2 linked regions of the Homo sapiens genome follow. The protein of the gene in region 1 purifies or fractionates together with the protein of each later gene. This does not show direct contact. Each region holds a gene or a part of one and is shown in the gene's direction. Other genes may lie near its edges. The genes, in order: PREX2 and GRAMD1A.

Region 1 (3,818 bases):
CCCCAAGCATTTTGCTACTAAATGTACAACAAGAGGGGCACACCATAAAAGCCAACTTTTTTATAGATGCTTATTTGCCAGGCAAGATTACATTATTATATACATTGGCTTATTTCATTCTCACAGTACTTCTGTGAGTTGAGTTATGAAACACCGGGATGCACCCTACTCCCTCCAGAGTGTGCAAGTTAGATGCAGGGAGAGGAAATCCTGCTTAATTTGCACAGGATATGTATGTAACAATATGTCTTGCCTACCCCACCTCTAAAATGGGGAAAATAATAATACCTACTTCATAAGGTGGTTTTAGAGATTAAATGAATTCATACCTGTTAAGGACTTAGCATCGTGACTGTCATGAAAGCTGAACAGATGTTAGCAATGATGATGATGTTTAAAAACACACAGGTCATTGCAACATACTGTATACAAAAATCTTTCTTATCAATGGCACAAGGAGAAGATTCACCTGGAATTGCATGCTGCTGAAGGTTTTAATTAATGGACCTCTAGTAGGTAACTTAATATTTTATACCAATGAAAGTGAAGGGATTTCTGCAAGCACAAATATTATGGTTTGATGCCTTGTTGCTTTTCAGAATCTAGAAATTTTATGCAAAACATGGTGTTAAAAATACAGTTTTTCTATCATTTGTTTGTAAGCCTAACACTTGTCCCACGGGGTCAATGCAAGCATGATTGCAGCTGTTTTAAATAAAAAGCAAATATCTGAATACAATTCATATAACTTTGAAAAAAATTATGCTTAGCCCCATGACTTCTAATTTAAAAGATACATAAGCACAGAGGCCTCTTGGCAAAATGAGAACTCCTGCATTTTTTCCCTCTTTGGTATTCAGAGTTCATCTGTCTGTGCAGCATGGAGCTTGGATAATTGGAGTTAGTCTAATGTTTTAATCTTTTGGGTGGAGAGGGTGAATAAATAGACAATCTGTCTTACAGGACATAAAAGTATCTTTCCAAAGAGAAAAACTGTGTTTAAAATCATCCATAGCTTTTGGTTATTAAAAATGTTCACAGGGCCTCAAGCAATGTAACATAGCTCCTTCAATTTTTCACTGGTGTCTAAAACCTATAAAATGTCAAAATATTGTTCAAATCTCACCTCGCTGTGAGACCTGACCTGACTGCACCACTGTTTGAAGTGGCAGCTTCACGCTTCCTTCCCTGCTTTCTTTTTCTCCTTACCATTTGCTGCCATTTGATATACTAGAAAGTTTACTTGTTTTTACTTGTCTTCTCTCAGTAGAATTTGAGCTCCAAGAAGGCAGGGGCTTTTGTATTTTGTTTTTGTTGTTGTTGTTGCTTGTTTGGTTGGTTTTTGAGACAGTCTCACTCTGTTGCCCAGGCTGGAGTGCAGTGGTGTGATCTATGCTCACTGCAACCTCCATCTCCAGGGTTCAAGCGATTCTCCTGCCTCAGTCTCCTGAGTAGCTGGGACTACAGGCTTCCACCACCACACCCAGCTAATTTTTGTATTTTTAGTAGAGACGGGATTTCACCATGTTGGCCAGGCTGGTCTCGAACTCCTGACCTCACGTGATCCACCCACCTCGGCCTCCCAAAGCGCTGGGATTACAGGCATGAGCCACCGCGCCCGGCCCTTTTGTGTGTTTTATAAACTACTATATCCACAGCACCAAGAACAGTGCATGGTATAATAAATGTGTTTAGTGAAATCACTTAATAGGTATTTATTCAATGCACAGCATTGGGTTTGACATTATGGAATATGCGTAAGAGGTATAAGATATCGTCACCGTCTTGAAATAACAAACATTACATTGCTATGGAAAAATGAGAATCAAGATATGTGCTACTGATTGGAACTGAAAATCACAGGTATTTAGTAAATGCGAAGATGGCTGCTGGCTTGAGAAGCCCTATATGGGTCCTTTGTTTATACATGGTTTAATTCATTTTGCAAGTTTTTTAGCATGCTCTTTGATAATAAAGTTCAATTCCATTTTTGCCTAATTTTGAGTTAGTTGTAACAGAAACATGCCACAGCCAAATGTTCAAGCCTAGAGTGTTGGAGTCAGCAGCTACTCAAAGTCCTCAGCAGGTTTCACACAGTTCAGTCTGACTGCGGCATTTTAGCCTGGAGCCAGGTGGAGGAGCTCTTTCTGTGGGCAGATTTGGGACATTTCATCCTGGCTGGCTTGCAGATTTACCCCATCCTCACATTGTATGTAACTCTGTTTAGTGTCTTGTAATCCCCAAGGCCAAGACTCCTGTTTGTACGAGCAGGGAGACGGATAGACAATCCAATATTCTCCCTGCCAAATAGGGAATGCCTGGGCAAAACCCAAGGCATAGATAGAGGGTAGGTGGGTTTTTAATACTGAATATGAGCCAGTGAGGACATGAAGGCCCATTTATAGTTTGGGTTTAATATTTGGCTAGCACTTTAAAGATTACTGAGTATTTTCTGTTTTTCTTTTCTTTCTTTTCTTTTCTTTCTTTTTTTTTTTTTTTTTTTTTTTGAGTTGGAGTTTCGCTCTTGTTGCCCAGGCTGGAGTACAATGGCACGATCTCGGCTCACCACAACCTCCGCCTCCTGGGTTCAAGCAATTCTCCTGCCTTAGCCTCCTGAGTAGTTGGGATTACAAGCATGCGCCACCACGCCCGGCTAATTTTGTATTTTTTAGTAGAGACGGGGTTTCTCCAAGTTGGTCAGGCTGGTCTCGAACTTCCGACCTTAGGTGATCCGCCTGCCTTGGCCTCCCAAAGTGCTGGGATTACAGGCATGAGCCACAACACCCGGCTGATTACCGAGTATTTTCATAAGGTGGTGATGGTTGTGCTAATGGCCAGGGGCTAGAGGTGACACCCATTATGCACCAGGAATATTCATTCTCACAGCAGTCATGGAAGCCAGTTATTCTCATTATCTCCATTTCACAAGTGTCAAACAAAACTATCACAGCTTTGTTTTAGCTATAGTCATACATGGCACAACCTGTATTTCAATGAAGCTTTCTGGTCTAAATTGTATGTTGTTTGTATGACTTATTTTGTGAAGAACAAGAGAACTTTGAATGACATGCTTTTTATGCAATAGAATATTTACTTGATATGAAACATTGAAGCACTCTAGAAATATTTGTAAGCCTATTGTATTCAGCAAATAAGGTAGTTATATATAGCAGACAGTTTGAAAATGTGCATTTTTTTTTAATATTACATTGCAGCCTTCTGTCTTCAATAACATATTCTCCTAAATTAGAACGTAAGACATCAGAGGGCATAATACCAACAGACAGTGACAATGAGAAGGGAGAAAGAAACAGCAAACGGGTATGTTTTAATGTAGCAGGAGATGAACAGGAAGATTCTGGTCATGACACCATCAGCAACAGAGACTCTTACAGGTAATTCACTAATTCCTCAAACTCATTTTCTTAACAAAGTCAAATATGATGCTGGATTTTCCACAAAGATCTTGAAAAAAGTTTTTGATTGTTTTTCTTTTAATTGGTCTTTCACAATAATCACCTGTTACTACCGACCTCAGACAAAGCATAGTGGGACAATGTAATATTTCAAATCCTTCCCTTTTCTAATATGAGTAGCTTGGAAAAAGCATTTTTTCGCTGGTTGTGTGAGCCTAATTTGGGAGAGTTGTTCTGTATATGGATTGTGTAACACAGATAGCTGGTAAGAAAATTGTGCCTATACAGGATTAACATTGTTTTCAACTATCTGTTTCTGTCACTGGTTTATTGGGTAGTGAATAGGAGTTCTTTTGGCTCTTTTTTCTCTCTTTTCTTTTCATTGTCTATGTTCCAACCTAA
Region 2 (3,818 bases), on another chromosome or scaffold:
AATTGCTTGAACCCAGGAGGTGGAGGTTGCAGTGAGCCAAGATCATGCCACTGCACCTCAGCCTGGGTGACAGAGAGAGACTCCATTAAAAAAAAAAATGCTCCTGAGGCCTCCCCAGAAGCCGAGCAGATGTCGGCATCATGCTTCCTATACAGCCTGTGGAACTGTGAACCCATTAAACCTCTTTTCTTTATAAGTTACTGAGCCTCAGGTATTTATAGTAATGTAAGAATGGCCTAATACAGAGCTCCTCAGCCTGACACGCCAGCCCTTTTAGGACATAAGCATAGTTTTGGGGGCCTTGTAGCCCCCCAACACAAGGCACCATCTTCCTGACTGCAGGGGATACTGCATGTCTCATCAATACAGAAAAAGAAACAAAGAGAAACTCCCATCTGACACGCTCCTCCCCTGCTTGAATCTCTTTTGTAGCCTCCCAAGTTCCTTGGCTGGTCCCATGTCAACCCTTCAGCCTCACCCAGAGCTGTGGCTGCCCCTCTCCATACCTGGCTGCCCCATCCCAGCCTCAGGGGACTTCTCTCAATATTGGCCTCCAGCCTCAGGGCCTTTACTGGTATCACGCGGCCTCCTGGGCTCCTCTGCCCCGACCCCTTCCTTCCTCAGTTCCTCCTTCAGGCCTTGGTTTTGATTTCACATCCTCCTGGCAGCCTTCCCTTACCTTCCTCAGATCCCAGATACCCCCAGATACTCACAGCTTCTGCCCTTAACTCACACCATGCCAGTAGTGTGTGGTTTTTATTTATAGATATTTCCTGTTGTTCTCAAGAGATTCTGGGTGCTAAGGACAGGAGTTCATCTATCCTGGTCTCCCACTGGCCTCCAAGCCCTGCATAGGCCTGACAGAGTGGACATTAAATTTGTGATCATTAACACATATTTATTTATTTATTTATTTATTTTTGAGTCAGGTTCTTGCTGTCGCCCCAGCTGGAATGCAGTGGCACAGTCTTGAGTCACTGTAGCCTCTGCCTTCTGGGTTTAAGCCATTCTCCTGCCTCAGCCTCCTGAGTAGCCGGGATTATAGGCGCCCACCGTCACGCCCAGCTAATTTTTGTATTTTTAGTAGAGACGGGGTTTCACCGTGTTGGCCAGGCTGGTTTCAAACTCTTGACCTCAGGTGATCCTCCTGCCTCGGCCTCCCAAATTTCCCGAAGTGCTGGGATTACAGGCGTGAGCCACTGTGCCCGGCTGCCTCAGGGAGCTTTTGATCATGCTGAAAGGCAAAGGGGGAGCAAGTGAGAGAGAGTGGAGGGGAGGTGCCACACACTTAAATGACCAGATCTCGGAAGAACTCACTATCATGAAGACAGCAGCAAACCATGAGGGATCCGCCCCCATGATCCAAACACCTCTCACCAGGCCCTACCTCCGGCATTGGGGATTACAATTCAACATGAGATTTGGGTGGGGACAAATATCCAAACTATACCAAACTCAGACTCTGTTCTAGGGGTACTGGGGAGCCATGGAGTGTTCTAGGCAGAGAAGGGATAGAGTCAGGCTTGGCTTTAACAAGATGCCCCTGGACCAGATGGGGAGACTGAGGCCAGACACTCAAGGGAAGGCTGGCAGGGGCACTGGGCAGGCAAAGATGGGCTGAACCAGGAGTGACGCTCAGGAGGTTTGGTGAACACACAGTGTAGGTAACCATCTAGGGGTTTGAGTAGGGGGTGTCCAGGGCAAGGCCTACCGCTCCAGTGGGAGCCTGGAGGACCCTGGGCCACCCCTGAGTGGGGGCCTGGGAGATGCAGCAGGTTTGGGGAGATGCTGAGGCTGTGTGGAGCTCGGTGGGTTCGAGGGGTCCAGGGACCTTCCAGGGGAAGGTGTTCAAAAGATTACAGGTCCAATGCTCAGGGCAGAAGCCAAGACGGGTGCAGAGGGGGAAACTGAGGCTGCAGCAGTGGAGGAGATGGCCCTGCCCCAACAGCTAAGGTTTTAGGCTCCTGGAAGGAAGGTGGGGACACAGAGGAGTGGTGGGGATTGGGACAGGTCCCCAGAGAGACCTCCCAGAAGGCTGAGTCTCCTGTGGCCTGTGGGCAAAGGACTGGGGTGTGGCCTCCTCATGCTGCTCCTCCCTCCTCTAGACGTGACGCTGAGCCCCTGGAGTGGGGACAGCAAGTGCCACCAGCGCCGGGTGCTGACGTACACCATCCCCATCAGCAACCCACTGGGCCCCAAGAGCGCCTCCGTGGTGGAGACACAGGTGGGCCAGGTGGGGCAGCCGAGTGGGTGGGGCAGCTGGGTGAGTGGGGTGGCCCTGACTTCTCCGGCTCTGTCCCTGCAGACGCTGTTCCGGCGCGGCCCCCAGGCCGGCGGGTGTGTGGTGGACTCCGAGGTGCTGACGCAGGGCATCCCCTACCAGGACTACTTCTACACTGCCCACCGCTACTGCATCCTGGGTCTGGCCCGGAACAAGGCGCGGCTCCGGTGAGTGGTGGCTGGGCCCCTCCACCCGATGCCCTGGTGGCCCCAGGGCCTCCTGTCCACTCCTCAAGTCAGCAGCAGAGCCTTGGTTCCCACCCTGGTGGAGGAACAGAAGCGTGGGGTTCCTGAGGCCCTTGTCCTCCGAATAGTGGAGGGTAGAGGAAGAGTGGCCCTGGGATGGCTCCTCCCATCTACAGAGGGTGTTTGAGCCTCAAGACTCTGAGGATACAGCAAAGCCAGGCAATATCACCTCTCTCAGGGAGCTCATATTCTAGTGGGGAATTGGACAATAGAGAAATGATCAGGAAAATCTGCAGAACATTCACTGGCAGTTAGGCCTATGGAGAAAAATGAGGAAAACACGGCAGGCTAAAGAAGCAGGGTGTGGAGGCTTTTACACCCGACACGCTGGTCAGGGAAGGGCCTACTGGGAAAGAAATGTTTCACCAAGAACCTGAAGGAGCTGAGAGCAACTCATTTGGGACAGCAGGTGCAAAGGCCCTGAGGCAGGGGTGTGGGCAATGGCTGGAGTGGAGTAAGATTGAGTGAGTAGGAGCTGAGATTAAAGTGGTGAACCGGGGCCCGGCACAGTGGCTCACACCTGTAATCCCAGCACTTTGGGAGGCTGAGGCAGGAGTATCACTTGAGCCCAGGAGTTCAAGAGTAGCCTGGGTAACGTACGGAAGCCCTGTCTCTACAAAAACAATTTTTTTTAAATTAGCCAGGGTCCAGGTGCAGTGGCTTACGCCTGTAATCCCAGCAATTTGGGAGGCTGAGGTGGGCGGATCACTTGAGGTCAGGGGTTCGAGACCAGCCTGGCCAACATGGTGAAACCCATCTCTACTAAAAATACAAAAATTAGTCGGGGGTAGTGATGCACGTCTGTAATCCCTACTACTTGGGAGGCTAAGGCACAAGAATCACTTGAACCTAGGAGGTGGAGGTTGCAGTGAGCCGAGATCGGGCCACTGCACTTCAGCCTGGGTGACAGAGTGAAACTCTGTCTCAAACAAACAAACAAACAAACAAAAAACAAGTTAAAAAATTAGCCAGACATGGTGGAGATTTCAGTGAGCCATGATCACACCGTTGCACTTCAGCCTGGGCGACAGAGCAAGACCCTGTCTCAAAAAAAAAAAAAAAAAAAAAAAGGTGAACCAGATGTGGCTCATGGTGAAGACTTGACTTTACCTGGAGTGAGGTGCAACCAGGCCAGGGCTCTGAGCCAGGAGGGCGCTGACCTGACTCAGGTGGTCCCAGGCTCCTTCTGGCTCCCTCTGTTCTGGTGGGAACAGACTGCAAAGACAGGTACAGGAGCAGGGAGGCCAGGGAGGAGGCTGCTGGGACATCCAGGCTGGAGGGGACGGAGGCTG

What was found.
Region 2: the proteins of PREX2 (region 1) and GRAMD1A purify together in Homo sapiens (affinity purification with mass spectrometry; one large-scale study listed by BioGRID and IntAct). This does not show direct contact.

What each region holds. Positions count from the first base shown.
Region 1 is NC_000008.11:68,112,538-68,116,355, forward strand, and holds part of PREX2 (phosphatidylinositol 3,4,5-trisphosphate-dependent Rac exchanger 2 protein), read left to right. Parts: intron 1-3,215; coding exon 3,216-3,395; intron 3,396-3,818. UniProt on the Homo sapiens protein: Functions as a RAC1 guanine nucleotide exchange factor (GEF), activating Rac proteins by exchanging bound GDP for free GTP.
Region 2 is NC_000019.10:35,017,086-35,020,903, forward strand, and holds part of GRAMD1A (protein Aster-A), read left to right. Parts: intron 1-2,105; coding exon 2,106-2,224; intron 2,225-2,305; coding exon 2,306-2,448; intron 2,449-3,818. UniProt on the Homo sapiens protein: Cholesterol transporter that mediates non-vesicular transport of cholesterol from the plasma membrane (PM) to the endoplasmic reticulum (ER).